2 separate regions of the Homo sapiens genome follow, and region 1 is linked to region 2. The links come from fine-mapping of genetic effects on gene expression. A gene starts in region 2. The other region holds a variant in brackets. All regions are shown on one strand. Distances are between the middles of the regions. Region 1 overlaps GLS (glutaminase). Region 2 holds the start of STAT1 (signal transducer and activator of transcription 1).

Region 1 (5,384 bases), 85 kb before region 2:
TGCATGATTAAGTCGACCTTATCACAAATCTTTGCTATCTGGGGCAGTATTGCAAGTCGATTCTGTCGTTTTTGAGAAATAGGGAAGAGATTTTTTATATAAATAGGCAATGTAGTCAAAGTTAAACACACAATGTTCTAATTCACTGTACTTAGTTTTCCTCCTTGCTATTTCCAAACCCCTTTGTGCCTCTTGTAGATCTTGGAGTATGGCTGAGGAAAATTTATAAGTTGAACTCATTCTTCTCCTATCCACTTTATTTTTTGACCCCGTCTCATCCCAATTTTGCTTACTATTAGCTAAAAATAAAATGTGGAAAAATTTATTTTCATTTTATGGGTAAATTTGGGTTTGGTACGGTGAACTATTTTCATTATTTTGATTGTATTTAAATGCAAAAATTTTATCCTAGAGGGTATTCTTAGCACCCATAGTAAATATCAAATAAATATTAATAAATGGTCTAAAGGATAACATTTTGGTTTAGGCTTACAGAGCATCTGAGACAGATCTGCTTTATATTTTTCTTCCCCTTTTTCCTTTGCCTGTTACCATATAGATGGGGATGCCGAACTTTGTTATGGGTGAAATGTCAGGCACTGTAGCATTTTTTTCTAAAATGGTGATTTCTCATGTAGACACTATCATAATCTTCATGTATGGTGCTTTATCTTAAAAATATTTCATGGCTCTTTTTTTTTCTGTTGAGTTAAAAGTAATTATGCTTGTGTATTCCACAGAAAGTATTAATATTTAAGCAAATTTGAATATCACATGGGATAATAACAAATCTTAGTGTTTAGAGGCTGGCACTTCCTAGTCTAGTTCTGCCATTAAAAGACTGAGTATCTTTGGCCAAATCAGGGTAAATCTTAAAAGTGGGTAGGACTTCGGTCAACTAAAATCTTCAGAATGTCCTCAAGTTTATATTAAAGTAATCTCTTTGGAAGAAATATTTCAGATCTGTATGAAATACCAAATAAAATAGATTATCTTAAAAGTGAACAGTAATATTAAAAGTAGTATGAGAATTCTGCTTTTTCTTTGTGTTAGCTGTGCTCCATTGAAGTGACTTGTGAATCAGCCAGTGTGATGGCTGCGACACTGGCTAATGGTGGTTTCTGCCCAATTACTGGTGAAAGAGTACTGAGCCCTGAAGCAGTTCGAAATACATTGAGTTTGATGCATTCCTGTGGCATGTATGACTTCTCAGGGCAGTTTGCTTTCCATGTAAGTAATTGTTTAATCTTATTTTCTCTGGCAAGAAACTAGTCTGAACTGGTTCTTTTAAAAATGCAGTTTGAACTTTGCTTCTAAAGCTGTATATTAATTTTTGAGAGAGAGGCTTGTTTTCAAGGTTAATTTGTTACAAGATTAGTAAGGAATAGAGATAAGGTCTACCAGATGTTCTTAAGAACTTGGAAGTTTGATTTATAGAACCTCATCCCTTCTGCTTTTAAGGCAATCCAGTGTACAAGGTTAGTACAGTCTTTCTTTACTTTTTGTTTTTAATGTTTAGCATTATGATTATGTATCTTAAGAATTCTCTAAGTTCAGAAAGATTGCAAAGATGTGACGTTTCACATCTTTGGTTACGGCCATAGCTGTTTTAAGGACTAAAAGTGTATTAAAGTTAAAACTTAACAAAAATGTACTGCTTTAAGCTCTGTTGTGCATTTGCCACTTGTAAAGTATATAGACTTTTTTTATTTCATTCTGCTCATGTCAAGTCATAATGCCCTTCTAAAAGCTTTTTTTATTTTGGAAATTTTCAAACATGTAAAACGAGAGAGAGAGAGAGATACATTTAATGTTATCCATCACTCAGCTTCATTAATTATGAATACATTACTAATCTTGTTTCATCTGTATGTGCATCTGTTTCCCCTATCCTTGTCATATTTCAGTATGTAATTCTAAATAAGGATCCTTAACAAAACATAACAATAATACAGTTTTTACATATAAAAATTAAATATTACATATCAAAACTTTAATATCATTATTAATATCAATATTAAATTGAATATCAAAATATTTAGTTAGTGTTTAGATTTCCTGGATTATCTTGTAAATTATTATTTCTTTTTTTTTTTTTTTGAGACGGAGTTTCACTTTGTTGCCCAGACTGGAGTGCAGTGGCACGATCTTGGCTCACTGCAACCTCTGCCTCCTGAGTTCCAGCGATTCTCCTGCCTCAGCCTCCCGAGTAGCTGGGATTACAGGCGCCTGCCACTGCACCTGGCTAATTTTTGTATTTTTAGTAGAGATGGGGTTTTGCCATGTTGGCCAGGCTGTTCTCGAACTCCTGACCTCAAATAATGCACCTGCCTCAGCCTCCCAAATTGCTGGGATTACAGGTGTGAGCCATTGCACCTGGCCTATTATATTATTTTATAGTTTGTTTGACTTAGGATACAGATGAGGTGCATACATTATGATTGGGTTTTGTCTCCTTTTTTTTTTTTTTTAAATCTATTGGTCTTCTTTTGACCTGTCTCTCTTTTTTTCTTGTTATTTTTGGTTGGAAAAACTGGGTAATTTAGTCTATACAGTTTTCCACTGTCTCTACATTGCTGATTACCTCTGTTCCATTGTCCCTTGTATTTCCTATAAATTTGTAGATCCAATTCAGGTGTGTTTTTTTTTTTTTTTTTTTTTTTTGGTCTGCTTGTTTTGTTTAGTTTTGTGTAAAAGTACTTTATTGGTATACTTCTTTTATTTTTGTTTGTTTATTTATTTATTTATTTTGAGACAGAGTCTCACTGTGTCGCCCAGGCTGGAGTGCAGTGGCGTGATCTCGGCTCACTGCAACCTCCATCGCCTGGGTTCTAGCAATTCTCCTATCCAGAGGTACTGACTGACTGAATGTTAGTAAGCAATTAATGAACACTGCTCTAATGACATTAA[T/C]TTTTTTTTTTATCATTTGTCAAGTTTTGCTAATGTAACTTAAATTTTTTGAGGAGGAGTAATTTAAATTACCATTTTAGAAAATCTTTTAAGAATATATAACTTTTTATTGTTTTCTAGTTGTAAAATATTTTTAAAAAATAATTTGTTATATTTAAAAACAATACGTTTATCTTAGAACAATTAGAAAATATAGTCAGGAAGAATAAAAGCATCCATAGCCTCACAATTTAGATGTAACTGCTATAATTCCTTAGAATGTATCTTTAAACAATTTTTCTATATTCATATCTATCCCAAACTGTTTCATAATTTTTTTTTTTTTGAGATGGAGTCTTGCTTCGTCACCCAGGCTGGAGTGCAGTGGTGCGATCTTGGCTCACTGCAACCTCTGCCTCCCAGGTTCAAGCGATTCTCCTGCCGCAGCCTCCCGAGTAGCTGGGATTACAGGTGCCTGCCACCACACGCGGCTAAGTTTTGTATTTTTTGTGGAGACGGAGTTTTGCCATGTTGCCCAGGGTGGTCTTGAACTCCTGACCTCAGGTGATCTGCCCACCTCGGCCTCCCAGAGTGCTGGGATTACAGGCATGAGCCACCGCACCCGGCCTTATAACTTTATTTATAAACATGTTGATAAAAATTTATCTACAATATTTTTAATGTTGAAATTCTATGGTATGTATATATATATATTTTTTTTTTCGAGAGGGAGTCTCACTCTGTTGCCCAGGCTGGAGTGCAGTGGCATGATCTCAGCTCATTGCAATCTCTGCCTCCCGGGTTCACCTTTCTCCTGCCTCAGCCTCCCGAGTAGTTGGGACTACAGGCGTGCACTTTGGGAGGCTGAGGCGGGCGGATCACAAGGTCAGGAGATAATTTTTAATTTTTAAACCAATTTCCCAATTGTGTTTTTTTTTTTTTTGAAACTGGATCTTGCTCTGTCATCCAGGCTGGAGTGCAGTGGTGCGATCATGGCTCACTGTAGCCTTGACCTCCTGAGGTCATGTAATCCTCCCACATCATCCTCCAGAGTAGCTGTGACTACTGGTGTGCACTTCCATGTCTCACTGTTTTTTGTAGAGACGAGATCTCCCTGTGTTACCCAGCCTAGCCTCCAACTCCTGGGCTCAAGTGATCTGCTTGCCTTGGCCTCCCAAAGTGCTGAGATTACAGGAGTGAGCCATGGTGCCCAGCCCCAGTTTCCCTATTGTTGAACATAACATTTCTTATTTTAAAATGTTTACCTGAATACTCTTTTACTGAATTATTTTTAGGTTGGTCTTCCTGCAAAATCTGGAGTTGCTGGGGGCATTCTTTTAGTTGTCCCCAATGTTATGGGTATGATGTGCTGGTCTCCTCCTCTGGATAAGATGGGCAACAGTGTTAAGGGAATTCACTTTTGTCACGTAAGCATATTTTCTTAATGTAAATAATGGTGTTACAAGTTGAGCCATCCAATGATTCTTTTTTTTAACCCATTTTCCATAGTTCATTAACTCTTGGCCCTCCGCCTATAGTGTGCCAGTTACTAGGGAGCCGTGGAAATACTCCCAGAGGAGCTTCAAGTTGTCTCTGTCAGACAGCTCCCATTTAATTATTCCCACAGATTATATTTGTTAGATGCTAATATTTTAATTTTCATGGTTATAATTAGTATGAATTTTCAAAAGCTCAACAAAAGGTATTAAACTTGGAGAAGTAATTTAAAAGCCAGTATATCTTAAGAATTATTTTGGTTTATTATATCTTTAATCTGCATGGTTAAATATCTTTATCCATTGACTACCTTTAAACATTTTTTTGAGGAAATAAGCACTGAAAATTAAAAAAAGATTAAACCATTTTTAAACTGTTACTGCTCTTGATAGTTCTGTATTTTGTTGTTACCCAGTTCCTGCTAATGTTTGAGCTTCTAGTTTTAGTTACATTGATTACTTGCTTGAGTTCATATTAAGTACCATACTCAATTAAAATTGTTTTATTTTCCAGTCTTTTATATTTTACAAAAACTAGAGTATGACCTTGGAGTGCATATAAAATATAGTAGATTGTAACCAGAGTACTTATTTATATTTTAATGTGGCTTTACACTTATTTGATAGAAGAATTCTTTCATGGGGCCGGTTATAAACCCTATTTTGTAGAAGATGAAAGATGATTTGATTGGCTGAGCCCTAGGATCATGTTAGTAAGCAGTGTTCTTAAAACTTATATCCATATCTTACTCTGATTTTAGTTCTCTTCTTGATGCATTATACTACTTTATTAGCATGTAGTGATGATTTCTAGGCTGGACGATATAAGCAGAGTTTGTTAAAATATGGATATATATAACCAATGAATAGCCAATTTCTTATACCTGCTCTGTATAACTGTTTACAGGATCTTGTTTCTCTGTGTAATTTCCATAACTATGATAATTTGAGACACTTTGCAAAAAAACTTGATCCTCGAAGAGAAGGTGGTGATCAAAG
Region 2 (5,384 bases):
CCAAATCTTACCTCGAATTGTAATATAATTCCCATGTGTTAAGGGCGGGACCAGTGGAGGTAACTGAATCATGGGGGCAGTCTCCCCCATGCTGTTCTCGTGATAATGAGTGAGCCTCATGACATCTGATGGTTTTATAAGCCACTGGCATTTCCCCTGCTTGCATCTATTCTCTCTCCTGCTGCCCCGTGAAGAGATGCCTTCTGCCATGCAGAACTGTGAGTCAATTAAACCTCTTCACTTTATAAATTACCTAGTCTCGGGCAGTTCTTTATAGCAGCATGAGAACAGACTAATACAATAAACACGAGCCAAGAAGCCTGGCTAATTTTTAAATTTTCTGTAGAGACAGCCTCTCGTTATGTTTCTGAGGCTGGTCTCAAACACCTGACCTCAGGCAATCCTTCCACCTCAGCCTCCCAAAGTGCTGGGATTACAGGCGTGAGCTTCCGCACCCTGCCACAGTTGGTTCTTAAGGCTGGTTGAGCTAGTACATATGTAGCACCTGGCACAGAAGAGGTGAATTAATAAGCTCATGTTTGGGCTGGCCAGGTGGCTCACGCCTGTAATCCCAGCACTTTCGGAGGCCAAGGTGGGCGGATTGCCTGAGCTCCGGAGTTCAAGACCAGCCTGGGCAACATGGTGAAACCTTGTCTCTACTAAAATACAAAAAAAAATTAGCAGGGCATGGTGGTGTGCACCTGTAGTCCCAACTACTCGTGAGGCTGAGGCAGGGGAATTGCTTGAACCCAGGAGGCGGAGGTTGCAGTGAGCTGAGATCGCGCCACTGTACTCCAGCCTGGGAGACAGAGAGAGACTCTGTCTCTAAAAAAAAAAAACAATGAATAAATAAGCTCATGTTCACAAATCTGGAGTCAGTCTCATCTACTCACAAAACCTGTTACCAACTCAGGGAGTGGCATGGCCATCTCCCAGTCACTGAGCTCAAATCTCAGATTTAGGGTTGATTCCTTCCACTCCATCCCAAGACCTGCTCCTTCCTGTCTCCAACATTCTACCTTCCCAGTCCAGCCTCTGCTGCCCACAGATTGGACCACATCAATCTCCTGTGCAAAAATCCTATGATCTGTCCATTCCTAGGCAGATTTCCACCCCACCCCATCTTCATCCATCAACAAAGCAACCCAGTCACCAAATCATTTACTGTTTTTCAACTGTGCCCAACATTTCTGCTTTGCTCCAGCTACTCGCCCTTGGAAACAGCCTCTCCACAAATTTTTGCGTCTCTAAATCCTATAGCATTCAAAGCTATGTACAAAAGCCCCTTCTTTCATAAAGTTGTCTGAGACTTACTCACAATTAAGCTTTCTTTGACTTGCGTCTCACTGAATTCTGTACCTCTATTAGAGCATCGGTTCCAGTTTTCCTTGTAAAGCTCTGTGATGCCTCCAGAGTCCCCGGCGGGGGAAGGTGGGTGGGGAGGGGGTAGAGTAGTGGGGTATTTTGCTTTTTAACATCTTATGGACCTTGGACAGTGCCCTGCATATACTATGTGCTCGAAACAGTTTGTTGAATTGAAATTATGTATATTTCAGACGGAATTAGAAAGTAAAAAGCAAACCATATTATGATCTCACAAGTGTGAGTCCAGCATCCTCATTAAGCAATGGTTGCACAATGGACTGTGCTGGAGGCTCAAGTCCTGTTTCTGTTCTATGAAAATAACTCCTTATCTATACAAACAACATTCAAAGCACAATCAACCACACCTCTGCATACCTACCACAGAACTCTTCAGTACCGGCCAGAAATTTTTTTAAGACTATATTATTTTGGGGTGGGGGGTCTGCAAAAACTAAACATCACTTTTAAACTCTAGGAAGACATTAAGCCCTTCCATCTTTGAACATAGAAACATAATTAAGATTCCGAAGTCATGTACTCATTCATCTGATTCCATGAACATTTACTGACCTGCCACCTTGTGCCCCAACAAGGGCCTGGGGATTCAACCAAAGGAGCAGCTACGCACAGCACGTTAGGTGCCAAGACTGTCGAGGTTATATACACAGAGTGCGAACGTTAACCTAGACAGCTCTCGAGGATGGCATACAGCAAATGAAACTTTCTGCGAAAAGAAGAAAACGTGACTGATGGAAAGGGGTGGAAACGGGAGAAAGTGACGGTAAATGGGAAGGTGCAGTGCCTTCTAGAGGAAAATTATATTTCACAAGTCCTCTTCACTGCCAGAGCACGACTGGCAAGGACAATCGTGCTGAGCAGTGCCATCTCCGAGAACAGGTGGCACTGCTCGCACTTGGAATACTCAGGACGCGTTCTTCCTCTGGGATCACTATTCGCGGGTCAGCACAGACGGCCCGTCCTCGCCCGGCGTCCAACTGCACGGCCCGAGGACTCTGTCCCTGCGCGTCCCACCCCCGGCACCCGGAACCTCACGGCCACTCACTCTGCGCGCAGGATCCGGAAGGGCTAGGCGGGGGCGCGGCGGTGCAGCCTCTCCCGAGCGCGCTGGGTCGCCTCTGCTCGGTCTGGGGTCTGCCAGGCGCGATCCCCCCGGTGCAGCCGAGCCCCTCCGCAGACTCTGCGCAGGAAAGCGAAACTACCCGGCAGGAGAAAAGGCAGCGCTGGCGCCCGGCCCCCTTCCGCCCCCACCAATCACCGGGCGGCTCCGCGCTCAGCCAATTAGACGCGGCTGTTCCGTGGGCGCCACCGCCTCCCTCTGCGGGCCGCTGCTCCGCCCACGCGCTGGGGTATTTCCGCCGGCTTCCGGCGGGGGCCGCCGGCTGGGTGAGCTGCAGCCCAGTCCCGTGTTGCCACGCTGGGAACTGGCGTTCTGTTTACATATCTTAGAGAACGATCAGAAGGACGTGCTGTGTTTGCAGAAGCCCAAACTTGGAGGTCTCTGTAGTAGTTTCATCGCCGAGAATCCAGGCAGAGGACAGATTTGGCGACGTCGTCATTCTAGAAGCTCCCTTTAGCAACTGACCTCCGTGTTGCTAAACCCAGGGAACGCTTTTCTGTTTTTCTCACTTTACTTGACAGCTCGGAAGCATGGGGCAGAGTTGACGCCTTTGTTCTTGAAACACGTTTCTTCCTTGGTCATGATGATAACACATCCTTCTTGCTTTTTCCTGCCTCTGGCATTCTTTCTACATTGCCTCCACCTCCACTATCAAACCATTATATGTTAAGGTTGTCAGGGTCCAGACATTCGTCAGCTTCTTTACCTGGGCTTCTCCTAAACGCTGTGCTGTGATGACCTCACCCACAGCTTCAGTTTCCTTCTAGATGGAGGAGTCTTAAATGCTTATCCCGTCCACACCTCTCCTCTGGGCTTCACACCTACAACTCCCACTTGCCTCTCCACTTGTATGTGCAGTGAGCTCTACAAACTATGTTCAGAACCAAACATCTTTCTCCTCAAACCTGCTCTTTTTCTAGAAATGGCACATGACAGATACCTAGGATTCATAGTTGACATTGCCTTCTCCCTCACCTCGCAACACCTGATCCTCAAATCTTAATTGATTCTTCCTCCTAAATATTTCCCAAGTCTCATTTACTCTGCTCCATCTCTTCTGCTGCCTCCTTCTGCAGTAGATTCCCGAATGGCTGCCTCACTTCAGCCCTTATCTACCTTTTAATCCATTCTCCATACAAGAGTTTGAGTGTTTTTTTTTTTAATTGAAAAGCAGATCATGTCATTTGCCAACCTGAAAATCCTTCCATGGCTTTTCTTTGCTCTTATAAAATTCAGTTTCTTAATACATACTATAAAGCCCTGGTTGCCCGATCTCTTTGTCCAACCCCATAATGTGCCACTCTGCTTTGCTTACTTCAGCATTTAGTTCTTCAAATAAACCACACTCTCCAAACTCAGGGACTTCTCACCCTGAGTTTGGAAAACCCCTTGAGCCAACATCTGCTTCACCCAACTCTTCGCTGGCTAACTCATCTTTTAGATCTTAGTTTAAAAATCTCAGCTTAAATGTCACTTCTCCAGGTAGGCATTGCTGAAGCCAGACAAACTAAATCTTTTTGGACTATATGCTCATAAAATCAATTAGTTCCTTCAAGTAGACGGGATTTGAGTCAAGCCTTGAATAATTAGGCACTTTGGGGTAGGAGAAGGATCTGAATAATTTCCCATGGATATGCCTATATGTGTGTGTATGAGTTTTTTTTCTTTGCACATCTATTTGTTCTTCTTGTCACAAATGCACCCTCACAAAGCAAGTTAGCAGTGAAATTAGACTTCTCTGCCAAGAGATGCCACGGCACCAAAAGTGTCCCTTCTGCTCTTACTCACCCAAGAACCAAGACAATGTTTTACTGTTCTCTGAAAAAAGCTGTATTAATCCATTTTTAACGCTGCTAATAAAGACCTGAGACTGGGCAATTTACAAAATAAAGAGGTTTAATGGACTTACAGTTCCACATGGCTGGGGAGGCCTCACAATCATGGCGGGAGGCAAGGAGGAACAAGTCACATCTTTCATTGATGGCGGCAGGCAAAGAGCTTGTGCAGGGAAACTCCCATTTTTAAAATGATCGGATCCTCGAGACTCATTCACTATCACAAAAACAGCGCAGGAAAGTCTCGCCCCCATAATTTAATCACCTCCCACCAGTTTCCTCCCATGACAGGTGGGAATTGTGGGAGTTATCATTCAAGATGAGATTTGGGTGGGGACACAGCCAAACTATATCAAAAGTTGACTCTAGGAAGGGTAGATTACATGTTAAAAATTTTTTTTCTGGTACTATAAAACTTGCACAGATATTAGCTTCAATATTGATGAAGGAATGGAATAATCCTAACATCTGCAAATAGGATTATTTGGCACTCCAAATCCCAATTTGGATCATCAAGATCTGTGGATGCTTCCTTCCCTACCCCCCTTTATTTTAGCATCCACAGCAATACCTACCATAAGCCTTCATCACTTGAGAATTGGAATGCTATGCTAATCTCTAGGTATACTACCTTTTTCTTGTCTCTTTCTCCTTCACTATATTTGCCAAATTCAATTCCTTAAAATACTGCATTGATATAGTCATTCCCTGCTCAAAAGCCTTAACAACTCTCCTTGCACATATGATAAACACAAATGTTGTCTGCTAGTCTGGATCCTCCACAAAATGTTTCTTTCCTTCTTTCCAGCCTTTTCTATCATTGTCGCATTTCCCAACTAACCTCGTCTAGCTCCAGCACTCCCCCCATGCTTTTAATTTCCTGATTTCTGCCCCTTTGTACATACTGAATGGCAAGTCTTGCTCCTCACTCTCTTCACTTACCAAATTCTTATTCACCTGTTAAAGCCCAGCCCAAATACTATATTCTCTTTCTAGAACCACCTCAACCTGTAGCAATTAATCTGGGGTCTCTGAATGACCAAATA

What was found. PIP is the estimated chance that this variant, and not a neighbour inherited with it, causes the effect.
Region 1: its variant is the best candidate, but not a certain one, in a credible set for the expression of STAT1 in whole blood (INTERVAL, PIP 0.88).

What each region holds. Positions count from the first base shown.
Region 1 is chr2:190,926,253-190,931,636 of GRCh38, forward strand. It overlaps GLS (glutaminase), which reads left to right. Exons shown (of 18, transcript NM_014905.5): 12 at 1,054-1,230; 13 at 4,185-4,316; 14 at 5,293-5,384. Among named protein-coding and RNA genes, the nearest start is that of GLS, 48 kb to the left of the region's middle. The variant T/C (reference allele first, on the strand shown) is at 2,911.
Region 2 is chr2:191,011,590-191,016,973 of GRCh38, forward strand. It overlaps STAT1 (signal transducer and activator of transcription 1), which reads right to left and starts at 2,582. Exons shown (of 25, transcript NM_007315.4): 1 at 2,429-2,582; 2 at 1,936-2,089. RefSeq lists enhancers at 146-235, 664-723, 764-823, 1,935-2,254, 2,865-3,064 and 2 more and silencers at 2,345-2,544, 2,575-2,814.